3 linked regions of the Homo sapiens genome follow. The protein of the gene in region 3 interacts with the protein of the main gene of each other region in a pairwise test. Each region holds a gene or a part of one and is shown on either strand. Other genes may lie near its edges.

Evidence for each region. Proteins that work in one complex are often made in the same cells at the same time.
Region 1: the proteins of RNF111 (region 3) and NDRG1 interact in binary tests that used the Homo sapiens proteins (3 or more experiments, as listed by UniProt).
Region 2: the proteins of RNF111 (region 3) and EDARADD interact in binary tests that used the Homo sapiens proteins (3 or more experiments, as listed by UniProt).

Annotation. Positions count from the first base shown.
Region 1 is NC_000008.11:133,287,220-133,294,253, reverse strand, and holds part of NDRG1 (protein NDRG1), read left to right. Parts: intron 1-7,034. UniProt on the Homo sapiens protein: Stress-responsive protein involved in hormone responses, cell growth, and differentiation. Acts as a tumor suppressor in many cell types. Necessary but not sufficient for p53/TP53-mediated caspase activation and apoptosis.
Region 2 is NC_000001.11:236,481,285-236,485,463, forward strand, and holds the end of EDARADD (ectodysplasin-A receptor-associated adapter protein), read left to right. Parts: intron 1-982; coding exon 983-1,365; 3' UTR 1,366-3,646; downstream 3,647-4,179. UniProt on the Homo sapiens protein: Adapter protein that interacts with EDAR DEATH domain and couples the receptor to EDA signaling pathway during morphogenesis of ectodermal organs. Mediates the activation of NF-kappa-B.
Region 3 is NC_000015.10:59,088,645-59,095,678, reverse strand, and holds part of RNF111 (E3 ubiquitin-protein ligase Arkadia), read right to left. Parts: intron 6,013-7,034; coding exon 5,920-6,012; intron 4,621-5,919; coding exon 4,525-4,620; intron 3,167-4,524; coding exon of another isoform or gene 3,143-3,166; coding exon 3,039-3,142; intron 897-3,038; coding exon 779-896; 3' UTR 1-778. UniProt on the Homo sapiens protein: E3 ubiquitin-protein ligase. Required for mesoderm patterning during embryonic development. Acts as an enhancer of the transcriptional responses of the SMAD2/SMAD3 effectors, which are activated downstream of BMP.

The DNA.
Region 1 (7,034 bases), on a different chromosome or scaffold from region 3:
CCATATGGCTCAGGTGGGAGAGCCAGACTTTGAACCCGGACAGTTGGACTTCAGAGCCTTTGTTTTTTTTCCATGACAACATGTTGGGGCGCCTGAAGAAATCAGGCTCAAATGAAAAGGCAGTCAGGAGCTCCATGCCTCAGTTTGCTTTTCTGTAAAATGAGAGTAACAGACATGATGCCATCAGAATGTGTAAATATTAATCTGTGTAACCTGAGAACAGCACTGAGCATGTGGAAAACAGCGTGTAGGTGTTTGCCGTCAGTAGCACCCGCAGAAGACATTCTCAAGGCATCTTCTTGGCAGGCAGAGTCTGGGACCCTTTGTCCTAAACCTACCCAAGGCTGTGAAAGTGCCTGCAAATGCTTGACCTAGGTATTGCTTTTTGCTAAGCTTATGTAGGTTGCATAATAGTGTCATGAAAATCTTGTCTGAAATGCACATTTCCAGGCCCGGTCTCCTGCGATTCTCTCTCCATCAGGGGATATGCTGTTGTTTCAAAGCTCCTTTGGCTGGGTTGGGAATGGGGTATCCTGCAGGCAGACAGAGTTGAGAACCTCTGCTCTGGAATGACAGGGGAGAGAAGAAGGAAGGTGTAGTCATACATGCCGCTGTACCTTCAGGCCACCCTGTGTCCACAGTGCCAGGGAATTAGTGAGTGCTCAGTAAATAGCTCTTGTTTGCTATAGTGCCTTGGAGGTTCAATGCATCACATCAGCTAACTGAGGTAGAAGACATTCTTTCCACCTCTCAGGTCAGAAAATTGAGGCTCAGGCTGGTGACTCTTCTGTCCAGAGTCCAGTGAGTGGGGTTCTGCCCAAGGTGAGCCTCCTGAGCCCTTTCCACCCTCCAACATTGCGCTTGGAGGCCACCCACACCCTCTGGGCCCACCTTTTGAGAAGGAGCTTGTTTCCTGGATCCACCCCAGGCTGTTGTTCCTGCCTCCCTTGATGGCTGTGTGATGGAAGTACCGCGTGTCCACTTGCTTTTTATCTTTCAACTTGGAGATAGAGGCAGGCTAGATAGCGGTCTTGGCTGAGAACTTAGCCCAGGCAGGTAGGCAGAAGGGCTGGGGACACTGAGGCCCCACAGGAAGGCGGCTGCAGAGGTAGAGGGCCATGAGTAGGTGCCAACCTGGAGCCGTGTTCTCGGGGTGGGGGCCATGTGAAAAGAAACCTGGGCTCCCTCGGGTGGGGCGTAAGCCCCAGCACTACAGAATGGGAATGGATTACACAATCGGGGCCATAAGCAGGTCTCTTTGACCCAGATCTTTGACTTTCCCACCTAACATTGTTTGCAGACCTGCCTATGCCCTACCTGCCTGGGCTCCATCTCTGACCTTTTGAGTCCAGCGGGTTTTCTTGCAACTGAGCTGGTAGAAAGTGAGGCTCCTTAACAGTCTGGGGGCCTTGAGTGCCCTCCCCAGCAGTTTAATCTTTCCTTTCTTTAAATCTGTGGGGAGACTTTCTGCAGCTATACATTTTAAATCTGCATAGAGTTCTGTTTGAAGAGAGGTGGGTGGGGGCCCAGGTCTCCACCTTGTTCTCCTGCCTTCACCCTCTGCCCCACCCCCACGGAACCTAAGAAGATTCCAAGTAACCCTCTTCAAATATGGATGTGAGAGGGCCATTTAAGAGGTGGGTCTATGGCCTCTCTCAGCTGGGAATGCTTACCATCTCTCCTTCCTCCTTTTTAATCATGGAACTCTCCTCCTTTCTCCAGAAAGGCCTCCTTGGCTGTCCTCTGCTGGAGGGGAGGCTGGGTTGGGTCCTTCCTGGGACCTGTCCATGTCTCCCATGAAACCTGAGAGCCTGTCCTTAGTAGGTGTTGTGTTAGTGGTGGTGGAAAGGACATCTCCACTGATTAAGGAAGTAACTTGGACCATCTTGCATAGACAAGATCGGAGGCCCATTCCGGAGGGTGGAAACTGCAAGACCATTCTGGGGAAGGATCCTGTTAGCGTGGCTAGCATCCCATCTCGGGACAAAGGGTTCTGTATGAGGAAGCCATTTCCTCGTCCTCTGCTAACACTGGCTCCGTTTGTGTGATTTCCACAAATTATCTCAGACCATCCAGCGCAGCTCATGCCTGTCTTGCAATTTCACAAAATAATCCTCTAAGGAGACCAGTGTCCTCCTTTGGACTTCCAGTTATTCACCTCGTCCCCTCAGACGGTCGTCTTCTGTCTGCCAAACAAATTACTCGTGCTGCCAAAACTCCACTGAGAATCTCCAGGAAGATCTCGGTTGTATTGCAGAAAAGAGGTGGGCCCTGACGAGATTCCTGACACCTCCCTCTTCCTGCTGTTGTGTTTGGGACACTCTTGCTGACCTCCCTGGTGCTGTGCTCAAGTTGAACACACAGCAGTTCAGTTTCAGCTCCAGCCCCTCTGGACCCACACCCAGGGAGTGAATGCGGCTTTGGCTTGTTTGAGAGGGAGACAGTGGGGTTCACCTTCTTAGTGATCCCTTTTTCATTCCTTGAATATCAAACATCACTGATGCCTCCTGGGTTTCAGGCTCCACTGCAAAGTACAGGGGCCCTCGAGGAGTTCCTACTGTGGTTTTGTTCTCTGACATTTGTACTGTTTCCTTGATTCTGATTGCTCTGATACAGTTCCCTAACCTCTAAACTAGGGAACTTTCTTGAAGGTCCAGTGAATCCACCCATATTGTTTGCTGAGTTGATTAGTTAAGAAAGACAGTTCGTGAAGACTGCCAACTTCCTCACCCTCCCCAGGGCCTTGAGTTTCAGAAGGGCCAGAAAACACCAAGAGAGCCCATGAACTGCTTTGTAGCTTGACTTCAAAATCTCTTTGGGCAAAGAAATGACAAAGGATTGTATCCACAGTAAGGCAGGGCTATCCAGGGCCTATCTCAAGGTGGTTTTCCTTGAGGTTCAGGCAGAAATGGTGCTGTTCTCGGCAATTTTCTGGGGAAGTTGCTACAGCAAACAGCCACAGCACATGTTGATTTTTTCCCTCCTTTTAAAAATCTGTTCTATAAAGAGCACAATGTGCTGGAGAGAACACTGGCTTTCATGTGGCCTTAAAACCAGGCATGTTACAGAGGGTGGAATCTGGGCCAGTTGCTGTTGGTGACAATCGATGCTACCCTTGTCAGCAATTCCCGCCTGCTCTCCCTTTATCTGCTTCACTGAAGGCCTCCAGGGGACTGTTGTCCGCCCTCCCCCGAGGGAATGAGTGCCACACCTGCACCCACAACAAACCAGTGAGTTTTTCACCTTTCCCTCAGTAGGGAGGAATCTAGACATGTGGCCTTTGGAAGTCAAGTGGGCCTTTGTGTTTGTTTTTGAGCCTCAGGTTACCCATTTGTGAACTGGGTATAATACCCAGCCTCTCCCGGGGCAACCTCCTTGAGGAGCAAGTGAAACAGTGTGCTGAGTGAATGCTTTTCCAAAGCATTGAGTTGGCCGTCTTAGGAAGGTACTATGGGGGAGCTGAAAACAGAGAACCTTCTGGGTGTTGTGAAGGGAGAAAAGTTCAAGATGCTGGTTTTGCCAAAAGCTCAAGCCTGCTCATGATGGCTCAGTGGTGACTGCAGGGTGGAGGAGAGGCATGTGACTGTCCCAGCTGACCTCCACACGCTGAAAGCCTCATGGTCACGTGCAGCCCACCTTACAACGTTGTATCTGGGCCACGGGTGGTGGTGAGGACTGTGGATATATTTAGGGCAATGTGAGATCATTGTCAACATTCCCTTTAAGGTTGCTTTAACCTTAAAGCAGCCAGCTTGATGCTTGCTGACTTGGGGCACACATCTTAACCTCTTGATGCCTCAGTTTCCCCGTCTGTTAAATGGTGACATGCTGGCACCTCCCTCCTAGGGTTTCTGTGAGGCTTAAAGGAAGTACCGGGTTTAGAGTCCAGTTAGTGCCACAGATACTGTTCCTGGTGCTGTTTTTGTGGTGTGTCTGTGTAGGGTTACATTGTTGCCTTCCTGTGGCTGCTCTTCCTGGTGGGCGGAACCTGGAACTTCTAGAACAGATCATGGATGTTTCTCTGCTGGATACCCCTTCAGCCTCACCCTGTGGGAGTTGTGGCGGGGCCCAGGAGAGTTTGCTCAAGAGGGTGTGCAGGTGGGTGGCAGAGCTGGAGCAAGGCACTAGTCTTAACAGACAGGAGTCTGAGGCTGGCAGAAGTGGGGGCCTTGGTCCAAGGTGCGGGGCTAATCTGGCCAGAGCTGAGCCTGGCAGGGCCTTGGTAAGACCCTGTGGCCCTTTTGTCTTGGTGAAGCACCTTCCTGCCTGGGTTTCCATTTGCCTGTAAGTTTGTTGTGGACAGCGTGATCTCCATAGACGTACACTGTGCCTACTTTACAGATGGAGAAACCAAGGCCCAGAGAGGAAGTGACTTGCTCAGAGTCATGGAATAGGAAAGTGGCAGGGTCCCCATGCCCTGATTCCTAGGCCAGCGTTCCTGCTGCCCCACTGAGGTTTTTGGGAATCACAGGCTCTGTGTGTCCCCCTCAGTCCCCCAGGGGCTGTTGAACAGTTCTCAAGTGGTGTCGGATTACTGAAGATGCCTCTGCCCACTGCCCTCCCAGGTCCCAGGGTCACGGGTCACGTTCTTTTCTTCCTCGGGCAGATCCTGGCCTTGGCTTTGCCTGGCACCTGTGATCCAGCTCTCCTCTGACTCTCCTGGGTCTGCTGGACTGGAAGGGTATTTGTGTAGCCCCTCTTGGGCCCTCATTACTCATTGACAGACAGTGCTGGTGGAGAGAAGGGCCCCAGTGGTGACGCACTGGGCCTGATAATCAGAAACCTTGGTGGCATTTGCTGAGCATTTTCCATGTGTCCCTCTCCTCGCTGGGACTCTAGGACTGAAACCCAGGCCACATCCTCACAGATGTCCTGGCATCTCCAAGGCAACCCTGAAAGGAAAGTATGTTGATGAATTAAGCAACTGTTTGCTTAATTCTCCATGCCATTCTTGAATTTAAGCCCCACTGCTGATCATTGGGAGCAGGAGTTAGCATGCCCATTGACAGACAAGCAAACTGAGGCAAAGAGGTTAGATAGCCAGGCATGGTGGCATATGCCTGTAATCTCAGCTACTCAGGAGGCCGGAGTAGGAGGATCACTTGAACCCAGGAGTTTGAGACCAGTCTGGGCAACATAGCAAGACCCTGTCTCTCTAAAAAACAAGATGAATAATACATTTTTAAAAAGAGATTCGATAAATTATGCAGGATCACAGAGCTAATAAATGGTGACACCATGGCCTGCAAGCCTTCCCCCAGCTCCTGGCTACCTTTCGCTTCTCTGGCATTGGTCTTCTCGGAATTCCTCCCAGGCAGGTGGATGGGAAAAGAAGTGAAGATACAGGCTGGCAGCTGGTGCTGTGACCTGGAGCCCTGTTTTTGGTGCTAAGCTGGGTTTTAGCTGAAGGAGACCTGCTGGAGGGGTTTCTTCTGTGCTTCTTGGGGAGCAAAGATGGCCTTGGAGATGGAGACACGGTTTGTCAGTCCCAAGCCACTCCAAAGGTGGGGCTGGTGGGCTAGGAGTCAGCCCTGGTTCCCCCGCCATGCTGTGTGTGGCCCTGCCTTGCCACCCCACCTGCTGGAGGACCTCTTTGATGCTTTCTAGTGGGTCCCAACATTCTGTGATTAGGACTTTGCATGAGGCAGAGGGAGGGCAGGAGCTGGAGTCCAGCAAGGACCTCAAGCCCAGGGACAGGCTCCACCTGCCACACTTGCTAAGCCGTGAGGGCCTCAGGTGCCCGGGAGGAGGGAGCAGGAGTGGAAGCACCAGCTCGAGCCGCCAAACCAGGTCACGTATCACCTGCCATTTCCTGCTGGCAGAAGGAGATCACAGACACCAGAAGACAGCAGCTTCTGCCAGAACTGGGTCCTTCCATGATTCTCAGGTGGTGACTTTGAATCCCAGAAAAAGTGTTTTGGGGAGAGTGGAGTGAAGGAAGAGTGTGAACATTGGATCTGACTCCACTCCAGCCCCTGTGCTGCAGCCAGCAGGGTGAGCTCAGGACAGCTGGCAGCCGCTTGGGCCCAGCCCCCTCCTCCGTGAATGAAGGTGGTGGGGAGTGCACGTGTGCGTGTGAGTGCGTGTGAGTATAAATGACTGTGGATGTGAGAGTCCATGAAAGTGAGAATGTATCAGTGTGTAAGAAAGTGTGAGTATGTGAGAATGAGTGTGTTTGTGAGAATGTATGTATGTGTGAGTATAAGTGTGTGAATGTGAGAATGTCTGAGTGTGAGAATGAAAGTTTGCAAGTGTGTCAGTGTGAGGGAATGTGTGAGTGCATTTGAGAGTGTGTGTGTGTGTGTGTGCGTGTGTGCACGCATGCACTAGATTAAATAAGAATGCATCCAACTGACATTTTCTGGATACTGTTACCTACTAGGAATTACTAAAATCAGCTATTCCAGAGGAGGGTGGATGTCGCACCAGGGGACATTTGGCAACGTTTGCAGATTCTTTTGCTGGTCGCAGCGTGGGGTGTATGCTGTGGGCATGTGGTGGGCAGAGGCCAGGGATGCTGCTGAGCCTCCTCCCGTGCTCAGGGCAGCCCCTAAGGCAGAGGCTGCTTGTGGGGCCCAAATGTCAGCAGTGCTGAGCTGAGGATCTCTGTCCAGGAGGCACAGACGCTGTCCTGGATGCTGTCCAGACAGCATCTGCTCTGCCCTCCAGGGGGACAGACAGACAGTGGACACAGCCCAGATGCAGCCTGATGAGTGAGCCCAAGGGAGTGCCTGTCCCCTCGGGACTGTGAGCTCCGTGGGGGCAGGAACTGGGTCTGTTTGCTCATGATCCCCAGATGAGTCCCATAGCCAGTCTCATCACCATAGCTGGTGTTATTTTTGTTCTGAGCTCTGTGTTGGGCACATAGAACCTAGTGGGTAGAAACCTCTGAATAAATCCTGAGTTTTCCATCCTGCTTCCGTGAACTCAGATGTTCTTTGAGGGCCAGCCTGGTGGCGTGGGGGCTGGGAGTGGGCAGATTGTAGGGAGCCAAGTCCTGGGGTGGAGTGGGGTTCAGGCCCCTTTCCCTGGCT
Region 2 (4,179 bases), on a different chromosome or scaffold from region 3:
CGGCTGGTTACTCACAGACACAGCAGCCCCTTTTACCCCGGAGAGAGTTCTGTTTGCTGGAGCCCTTATTCTGGCCAGCAGTGTCACAAATGCACACTGTAAGACATAGACAGTCTTGGAAAGAAAGGGAAACTGGCTTTAAAAATTCTTACTCCTTCTAGCAAAGCAATTCATCTTTGGCTATAAAGAATAACACAGCCAGGTGCGGTGGCTCATGCTTGTAATCCCAGCACTTTGGGAGGTCAAGGTGGGCAGATCACTTGAGTCTAGGAGTTCAAGACCAGCCTGGGAAACATGGTGAAACCCCACCTCTACCAAAAAAAAAAAAAAGAAAGAAAGAAAAGATTAGCCAGGTTTGGTGGTACGTGCCTGTAGTCCCAGGTACTCGGGAAGCTGAGGTGGGAGGATCGCTTGAGCCTGGAGGGCGGAGGTTGCAGTGAGCCGAGATCATGCCACTGCACTCCAGCCTGGGCAACAGAGTGACACCCTGTATCAAAAAAAAAAAAAAAAAAGAACAGTAACACATTATTAGAAATGAGCATTCTGAGGCCAGGCACGGTGGCTCATGCCTATAATCGCAGCACTTTGGGAGGCCGAGGCGGGTGGATCACAAGGTCAGGAGATCGAGACCATCCTGGCTAACACGGTGAAACCCCGTCTTTACTAAAAACACAAAAAATTAGCCGGGTGCAGTGGCGGGTGCCTATAGTCCCAGCTACTCAGGAGGCTGAGGCAGGAGAATGGCGTGAACCCCTGGGAGGCGGAGCTTGCAGTGAGCCGAGATAGTGCCACTGCACTCCAGCCTGGGCGAAAGAGCGAGACTCCATCTCAAAAAAAAAAAAAAAAAGAAAGAAACGAGCATTCTGAAATAGTCTTCCATATGATGCTTTTGACAATTCAGCAGGAAAATAAAGGATGTAAGAAATGAATGCATATGTTAGGCCTCTTGTTGACCTGTGGACTAAATTGTTTCTCCCTGCAGAGATCAGCAAGGACAACTCCTGCAAAGAAAACTGTACTTGTTCCTCCTGCTTGCTCCGGGCCCCCACCATAAGTGACTTGCTCAATGATCAGGACTTACTAGACGTGATCAGGATAAAGCTGGATCCGTGTCACCCAACGGTGAAAAACTGGAGGAATTTTGCAAGCAAATGGGGGATGTCCTATGACGAATTGTGCTTCCTGGAGCAGAGGCCACAGAGCCCCACCTTGGAGTTCTTGCTCCGGAACAGTCAGAGGACGGTGGGCCAGCTGATGGAGCTCTGCAGGCTCTACCACAGGGCCGACGTGGAGAAGGTTCTGCGCAGGTGGGTGGACGAGGAGTGGCCCAAGCGGGAGCGTGGAGACCCCTCCAGGCACTTCTAGAGCTCTTCTTCTTCCTTCATTGGCCTCTCCGGATGTTGAAACAACCACAGGTCAAGAAGGAATGTGAATCTGTTGTTTTATAAGAGTTTAGGACAAGGACGTGGAACAGTGGACACTGGTTTTCCCCAAAGCTGGCAGTTTTGTGGAGGGGTAGCTTGTTTCGGTGGTGGATCTCTGTTTATTTTTGCACATCTGTTATAATTTAATATTCAAATCTGGAATTAAGAAAACATATTTTCTAGTATCCTCTAAGGGCCAAAGTCCTACAATCGGAATGGATTCATGCCACGTTGAAGATAAAATTATCCTCTCTCTGAAATACGGTAAAGATTTAAATAGGTCCTGAGACTGTTGATAGCCCCAGACATACCCACAGCATTATATGTAACATCTCTCCTGATCAGTGCCATTCCCACGGTTTCAAAGAAAACAGCTACAAGGAATGCTTACCTGAGTGTCTGCAGCACCCTCCACTTCTCTCCTAGGCAATGAGACCCAGTGGCTAGAAATTCACCATGTCTATTCTCAAGATCCATGCCAGGGAGCTCTTTGACTCTCGTGGGAATCCCACTGTTGAGGTTGATCTCTTCACCTCAGAAGGTCTCTTCAGAGCTGCTGTGCCCAGTGGTGCTTCAACTGGTATCTATGAGGTCCTAGAGCTCCAGGACAATGATAAGACTCGCTATATGGGGAAGGGTGTCTCAAAGCCTGTTGAGCCCATCAATAAAACTATTGCACCTGTCCTGGTTAGCAAGAAACTGAACGTCACAGAACAAGAGAAGATTGACAAACTTATGATAGAGATGGATGGAACAGAAAATAAATCTAAATTTGGTGCAAATGCCATTCTGGGAGTGTCCCTCGCTGCCTGCAAAGCTAGTGCTGTTGAGAAGGGGGTTCCCCTGTACCACCACATCGCCGACTTGTCTGGCAACTCCAAAGTCATCTTGCCAGTCCCGGTGTTCAATGTCATCAATGGCAGTTCTCATGCTGTCACCAAGCTGGCCATGCAGGAGTTCATGGTCCTCCCAGTCGGTGCAGCAAACTTCAGGGAAGCCATGCCCATTGGAGCGGAGGTTTACCACAGCCTGAAGAATGTCATCAAGGAGAAATATGGGAAAGATGCCACCGGTGTGGGGGATGGAGGCGCGTTTGCTCCCAACATCCTGGAGAATAAAGAAGGCCTGGAGCTGCTGAAGACTGCGATTGGGAAAGCTGGCTACACTGATAAGGTGATCGTCAGCATGGACGTAGAGGCCTCCGAGTTCTTCAGGTCTGGAAAGTATGACCTGGAATTCAAGTTTCTCGACGACCCCACCAGGTACATCTCACCTGACTGTCTGGCTGACCTGTACAAGTCCTTCATCAAAAACTACCCAGTGGTGTCTACTGAAGATCCCTTTGACCAGGATGACTGGGGAGCTTGGCAGAAGTTCACGGCCAGTGCAGGAATCCAGGTAGTGGAGGATGATCTCAGAGTGACCAACCCAAAGAGGACAGCCTCGGCCGTGAATGAGAAGAAGTGCAACTGCCTCCTGCTCAAAGTGAACCAGATTCGCTCTGTGACTGAGTCCCTTCAGGCGTGCAAGCTGGCCCAGGCCAATGGTTGGTGTGTCATGGTGCCTCATCATTCTGGGGAGACTGAAAATACCTTCATCACTGACCTGGTGGTGGGGCTGTGACCTGGGCAGCTCAAGACTGGTGCCCCTTGCTGATCTGAGCGCTTGGCCAAGTACAACCAGCTCCTCAGAATTGAAGAGGAGCTGGGCAGCAAGGCTAAGTTTGCCGGCAGGAACTTCAGAAACCCCCCAGCCAAGTAAGCTGTGGGCAGGCAAGCCCTTCAGTCACCTGGTGGCTAATTAGACCCCTCCCCTTGTGTCAACTCCGGCAGCTCAAGACCCCCGAGCAACATTTGTAGGGGCCGCTGCTAGTTAGCTACCCTTGCCCACCGCCGTGGAGTTCGCACCTCTTCCTTAGAACTTCTACAGAAGCAGGTTGCAGTGAGCCGAGATTGCGCCACTGCACACCAGTCTGGAGACAGAGTGAGAGTCCGTCCCAGAAAAAAAAAAAAAAAAAAAGAACTTCTACAGAAGCCAAGCTCCCTGGAGCCCTGTTGGCAGCTCTAGCCTTGCAGTCATGTAATTGGCCCAAATCACCGGAGCCACGTGACCCTCCAGTGTCATCTCCGGGGTGGCCACAGGCAAGATCCCCAGTGATTTTGTGCTCAAAATAAAAAGCCTCATTGACCCATGAGAAAAAAGAAAACAGCAATGAGAAGTGACCCTGTCTTGTTGGTTTATTACTTTTTTTGTTATAAAGTACTTTGGTGAATTAACAGGATGCTAGTATTACATGGTGATACTCTTCAGAACACCTGCCCCATCTTTTTTATGCAAGTATGTTTACAATCAGTGGACTATCAGTAATGTCATTTGCTCAAATATTTTTTAAAGACCTACAGAAACTGATGGTTATTGGGAAAACAGTCAGGAAGTAGTGAGGTAATCAAGGCCATGGGAATAGTGTTTGACAAAGAGAGTACTCCAAATCCCTTTTGGTTACCCAGGACTTTAAAAAAGAGAGTACTCCATCACACCTGTAATCCCAGCACTTTGGGAGGCCGAGGCGGGTGGATCACGAGGTCAGGAGATCGAGACCATCATAGCTAACATGGTGAAACCCCGTCTCTACTAAAAATACAAAACATTAGCCGGGTGTGGTGGCGGGCGCCTGTAGTCCCATCTACTCAGGAGGCTGAGGCAGGAGGATGGCTTGAACCCAGGAGGCGGAGCTTGCAGTGAGCCGAGATAGCAC
Region 3 (7,034 bases):
GAGCTGTTTCACAGCAGCAAAAACTGAATCAGGGAAATAAAATTCTAAATGATGTAGGAAAAAGATAAATGCAATCAGAACAGCAGTCTAAATGTATGATATCAATATTCAACTCTTATCTGCACTGTGTTGAAAGGAAAAGGATACACCAAGAAAATTTATACTGATCACTCTGGTGATGTGACTACCACCTGCATCTGATTTATATGGGTTGTATTCTGTTCCCAGTATTAAGGATGGTATTTAACTCAGAACTCCATATAGTAAATATACAGCAGCCATTTTGTCCTAATTAAGGAATGTCTTAATACACAATATTATCATTTTCTAGAGGATCTTTATACATTAAACTAAAGTACATGATTGATTAAATTAAAGGTTAGTAATGGATAAAAAATTCATAATTATCAAGGCTTGGTACTATGTAAAAAACAAAAAGACCACAAAATTCTACTTACTAAAGCAGCTAACCTTGCCTGCAAGTTTAGGGTCACAAGCCCATAATATGTGCAAAGAAATGCAATACAAGGAACCATGCAAAAATACAGTAAAATGATACAGAAAAATGTCAAATCTAGAAAAAAAAGCTTTTATAAATACATCAAAATCAACTGTATACATAAACTGTAGGTCTAGCATTAGTTGTACCATATAGCAGAGCCAGCACTCTAAGTTCAATGCTTCCAAATCTGCGCAGGTAAGTCATGCCATCTTTGGTTGACTGCAGTACCAGGAAGGATGGGAATGAGAGGGAGGGCAAGAGTTCTGAAACATGGTGTCAACTTTCACTTGGCAGCTGGGCCTCAATGTCCACTCTGCATATGGGGCACTTCTTATTGGTAATCAACCATTGGTCAACACACACTTGGTGGAAAAGGTGCATACATGGAAGACGTCTATTATTGGCAAGAAAACAAAAAGCAAAAATTAATTTTATGATAATTGTACGTAGTTAACAAATTATATATGTAATAATTCAATAATGTTTTGAAGGTACTAAGCATCTTCCTCTTCTATAAAAAACACATCGATTAAATTAGCACTCTGGGCAATATAATATATAAATGATCAAGATAATTAACTTTCAAAGCTACAGGACCAAATTATATAAAATCTTAAAAACTGTAAGAACACAAATTACACTGCCAATTATTCCAGTTTTGTTTTGGTACAGGAGCTGCCAATGCCCTGGAGTTAGCAGTATGTTACCTGTCACATAATATTGCAAATATATTTTTAAAAATCAAATCATCACTGTATTTGTAATGCCCTTTAAAAATACATATTATCTCAAATATATATTTATTACATCATTTAATTCTCTCTCAAAAACATTACAATTCATGTGGCAAATATATAGTAACTACACTTTCCTCACTAAAAAATGTCTTATTGTGCAATGTTATTTTCTATCAAGAATATCTTTACACATTAAACTTAAGTACATAACTGATTAAAGGTGAGTAATACTTTTTTCACGGAATAATTGTTATATACACTTAATATTGTGCTACTGTTTAACAGGTAAGTTAAAAGGAGATGTAATGATTTGTTTGTTTACATCATGCCAAATTACCAATTAGAAATTGAGAAATAAAGCCCCCAAGCAAGATAGGGTAACATTAAATCTGAGTGTTAACAGTGGAATAAAAGTTACTGACTCGTGTCCATTTCTACTTCTAGCAACTGTTAAGAGTTTTTATACACTTTTCAGACTTCCTAATATCTTGTTAAAATAATAGCCTTAAAAAGTATCCCAATTATTCCTTGAACAGTATTGTCAATACTGTAAAAGCAATTAAGTTCCAAATTTATAAACCTTCATTAGAAATACAGTGTGCAAAAAACCTTATTTGTCGTATGGTAGACAATTTTTTTCTCAGCCAACTGAAGAGGTACGACAAAGTTATCCTTATAAATTAGGGCAATAATATTACTACAAGGTTCTGTTATATATGATATAGAACCTGTTTCATATGGCATTATGTTAACATTAAAAAAAAGAACAGGAAGAAAACAATTACTTAAGTGATTATACAAAGAAAATGCCTAAAATTAATATAGGGTTAACATATTAACATTTTCTAAACAACAAAGGTGCAAGAAGGGAATAGTCCTACTAGTTTAGAGGAAATTTTATGACAAAACCAGTTTATAAAAGATGCTATAGCCGAGTGCAGTGGCTTACGCCTGTAATCCCAGCATTTTGGGAGGCTGAGGTAGGTGGATCGCTTCAGCCCAGGAGGTGGAGGTTGCAGTGAGCTGAGACTGCTGCCCTGAGCCTGGGCAACAGAAGGAGACCATCTCCCAGAAAAGGAAAAAAAAAAAAAAAAAAAAAAAAGATGCTGTAAAACAGACTGCATAGGACTAATCTGGATCCCTGTTTAAGTTTTGAAGAACACATTATAACTTTCTAGGACCTCCAAAGCCTCTCAAATTCTCATTTCTGCAAGATTTACAGAAGACAATTTTGACTACGAAATTTCCCTGGCCAAACCTTGTGTGGCCCTACAATAGGCAGTATATTTCCCACTCCCATGTTGGTAACATAGATACTTTAATCTTTTATTGTTTCACTCGCCAGATGAAGCCAGTTCTACGTGCCAGAAATTGGTAACAGTATATGCCAAAAGTAATCTTTATTTGGTTTCCAGTTTACTTTTACTCTTTTTTTTCAGAGACAGGGTCTCACTCTATTGCCCAGGCTGGAGTGCAGTGTGGTGTGCTCAAAGCTCACTGCAGTCTCAAACTCCTGGGCTTGAGCCATCCTCCTGCCTTAGTCTCCTGAGTAGCTGGCACTGCAGGTGCACACCATCACATGCAAATAATTGTACTATTTTTCTTTTTTGTAGAAACAGAGTCTTGTTATGTTGCCCAGGTTGGCCTCAAACTCCTGGCCTCAAGAGAGCCTCTGGCCTTGGCCTCAAAAAGTGCTGGAATTACACGTGTGAGCCATCATGCCCGGTGTAATTTACTTTTCAAATAAAATCCCATGTACAGTTTTGACAATGGATTTTAGATAATTAATATCTAGTTACCTCACATCTTCACCTTCCTCTAAAATAGACAAACAGATAGTACATTTTTCCTCTGTGTCTTCCTCAGTCCCTTCTTCCCCATCTTGTTTGCAGTGCAGTTTCCTCTGTGAGAACCAATCAGTTGTTACCTTATTAGTAGAGATGACATTATTGAACAACTGAGTAAAGTCTGTGTTTATTTGAAAAACAAAACAAAACAAAACCACATATTCACCCGCACTTTTTTCCCAGGTAAGACTGTCATAAATAAATGGATGAATTAAGTGACTATCATCAATTAAGTATATTTTTAAGACCCTCTAATAATTGGGATCAAAAGCAAAATCAAATTTAACAGAAATTCATTCACTTAAAAGCTATTACTTTTAATCCACAATGAGAATGATAAACAATATAAACTATTTTTATCCTACCATGAGCATAAATAAGTTTTTTTTATTAGTGAATGTTTCAAGTAACATCCATTTAAATTAACATTAGTTACAGTATTTAACTTGGACAGTTGAAAACTTGAATGTACTGGTAATACCTCAATACTCTTTGAAAATAGATGAAAAATACAGAGAATAGTAATTTTCACACTTTATGATTATTCTTTACATAGTATAAAGGAGTCTCCAACCCCTGGGCTGCAAACCAGTACCTGGCTGCACAGCAGGAGGTGAGTGGCAGGTGAGCGAGCATCACTGCTGGAGCTCTTCCTCCTGTCAGATCAGCAGCAGCGATAGATTCTCATAGAAGCGTGAACCCTATTGTAAACTGTGCATGTGAGGGATCTAGGTTGCATGCTCCTTAAGAGAATCTAACTAATGCCTGATAATCTGAGGTGGAATAGTTTCATTCTGAAACTATCCCCTCTGCCACCTATCCATGAAAAATTGTCTTCCATGAAAACTGGTCCCTGGTGTCAAAAAGGTTGGGGACCGTTGGTATTGAGCATGGTTTAAGACACGTATTTAACATGTCTACCCCATAACTGTATAATGCTATACAAGCAACTGAGGGTAGAGTAGAAGAAACATACATCAATAAAATGTCCGTCAAAATAAATTGCTAGTTAAAAAAATTACAGTACTGCCATATGATGGAATTCTGCATAAGCTATTAAAAATAATAAGGGTGATCTGTGGGAGCTAATTGGCATGAAAGGCAATCTGCAAACTATGTGGTAATCATCTCCTTTTGTGTTTTTTTTAAAGTAGACAAAAATATATATACATATGCACATTATTAGAAAATGCTAAAAAATATCTAGAAGAATATCTAAATCCTTAACTATGATTTCACTTCTGGGAAGAAGGACTAGGGTCTGCAGAGTAAAAAACTGCAAAGTATATATTTTTTATACTTTCCAAAATTTTTAAACAATATGTATGCATTACTTCAATAAAAATGTCATTGCTAGAGTCTACAAATTCAAAAAAGGTATATATTACATTTATGCCTTTCAGTAACACTCCAGAAGTTTCATAGAATAAATTCTTACCTTTTTGTATTTATGTGGATATGTACATCTTTCAATTGTCCCCTGGGATGCTCCACGATTGACATTGCCTAATCTTTCTTCCAAATGAATCAGTTCCTGAAAGTGAAGAATATAATGACTGGTAAAAGCCAAGATGATTATTCCTTGAACAGAACTGTCAACATTGTATAAGAAATAAACCTCCATACTTAGAAACTTGCAATATAAATACAGTGTTCAAAAAAACTTACACATGACAAGTGGTTACTTATATATAAGTATATATATAAAACAGTTTATATGTTGCCCAGGCTGGTCTCAAACTCCTGGCCTCAAGTGATCCTCCCACCTCGGCCTCCTAAACTGCTGAGATTACAGGTGTGAGCCACCATGCCTGACTTAATGTTTCTCATAGACAGTAAGGCAAATGGTTGTTTATCATGTTTTCCTCAGCCAACTGAAATGGTACAGCAAAAGTTATCTTTATAAATTACAACAATATTATCACATGGTACTATGTAAGTCAGTATGTATGTATGTATGGAGAAGATGAAATAATTCTAGTAAATTAAGGAACCAAATCAAACAATAGTTCTAAGTCACAATGACTCCAACTTCCAAACTGACATAAAAAAAACACAACGGGGGCCGGGTGCGGTGGCTTGCGCCTGTAATCCCAGTACTTTGGGAGGCCAAGGTGGGTGGATCACTTGAGGTCAGGAGTTCAAGAGCAGCCTGGCCAACATGGCAAAACACTATCTCTACTAAAAATACAAAAATTAGCCGGGCGTGGTGGCGGGCACCTGTAATCCCAGCTACTCAGGAAGCCGAGGCAGGAGAATTGCTTGAACCCAGGAGGCGCAGGTTGCAGTGAGCTGAGATTGTGCAACTGCACTCCAGTCTGGGTGACAGAGCAAGACTCCATCTAAAAAAACAACAACAACAAACAAACAAACAAACAAACAAAAAAACAAACCACAACAAAACTTTAAATCCCATTCGAATGATTTGTTCTTCCTGAAAATTCAAACAAGACATTTAGCTACAAAGGGAATTACTTAAGTTTCTTTTTCTCTACCGATTTCTCTAAAAATTTAGCTGAGTCAAAAACATTCCGTTCCCCACCACATTTAATGGTATAGTTATATATCTGACATTTATATTGATTTAATACATTTTTATATTCTTCTATATTAGATATTTTCATTTACTCATCTTTAAATATTTCGGTAACTTTTGACCCTAAGATTAATAATACTTACAAATATTTCTGTAACTCCCAGAAGCAACATCAGAAAATCACATGTGATTCCCAGCCACTGTAGCAGTCCTACACAATTGTGTATAGTAGTATATATATACTCAATCTGCATTAAAGATACTGTGACAAACATATTCATTTATTTTATTACATACCTCAAAATTGCCCCTGAAAGGACCTCTGAATGATGTTCCATCCAATCCTGATGAAATGTAACGGATGTGAGGATAGCCTGCCATATCAGGAACCTATTTCAACAGAAGAGATAGGCTAAATCAATTTTAAGAATAGACTTGTGATTTACTGTTAACATTGAATAATTCAAGACCCTCAATGTTTTCAATTCAACTGCTCATAAAATTTGACTTCAATAAGAATACATAACTCCAACTAAGCATTCTGTAACAGGTTTAGGTTTCTGTTAAAATATAACCTAACTCTCCAAAATGCCCAAACTTAAGCCTGAGGCTCTTAGTAGCTCAAACTTGAAAAGAGTAAAATTGTCTTAAGATCCTGTCCATTTCAGAGAGCTTTATTAAAACAACAACAAAAAATGCACACAATTTTCCAACAAAATTCGACTTCAAGATAAGTTTTTTACTTCACTTCTGTTAAGCTTCCTAACAGCCAAAGTACCCTATGCCTTTTTTGCTTGATTCTATTAGGGAAACTTTTAACACTGTTTTCTAATTTTTTGTTAGTTACAGTCAATCTTCATTATTTATGGATTACATATGTGTGAACTGACCCACAGGCTAAAATTTACTTGTAACCCCATAATCAACACTTGTGCTTTCAGAGTCATTCGTGGATATGACCGGTGGCAAAAAATTGCAGTTGCCCAACATGCAACTCTGTTCCCAGCTGAGGTAGAACAGGGCTCTGCCGTATTTGAGCTCCTACTATAAACCAGTGTCTTGTTTGCAGACTGTTTAGTGCCACGTTTTTCACAGTTTTGTGCTTTTTGTTGGTGATTGTGTTGTTTAAAATGGCACCCAAGCATAGAGCTGAAGTGCTGTCTAGTGTTCCTAAGCAAAGAAGGCTGTCATACACCTTATGGAGAGAATAAGTTTCATTCACGCATGAGTTACAGTGTTGTTGGCTATGAGTTCAATGTTAATGATTCTACAATATTTTTTAAAGTTGTCTTTAAGCAGAAACACACATAAAAAAGGTTATACACTGATTAGTTGTGAACAGAGGTTTGCAAGGGTCCCATATTTGCTAATTCAGTGTTTGCAGCAACTGTATAGATCATAACTGCCATGCA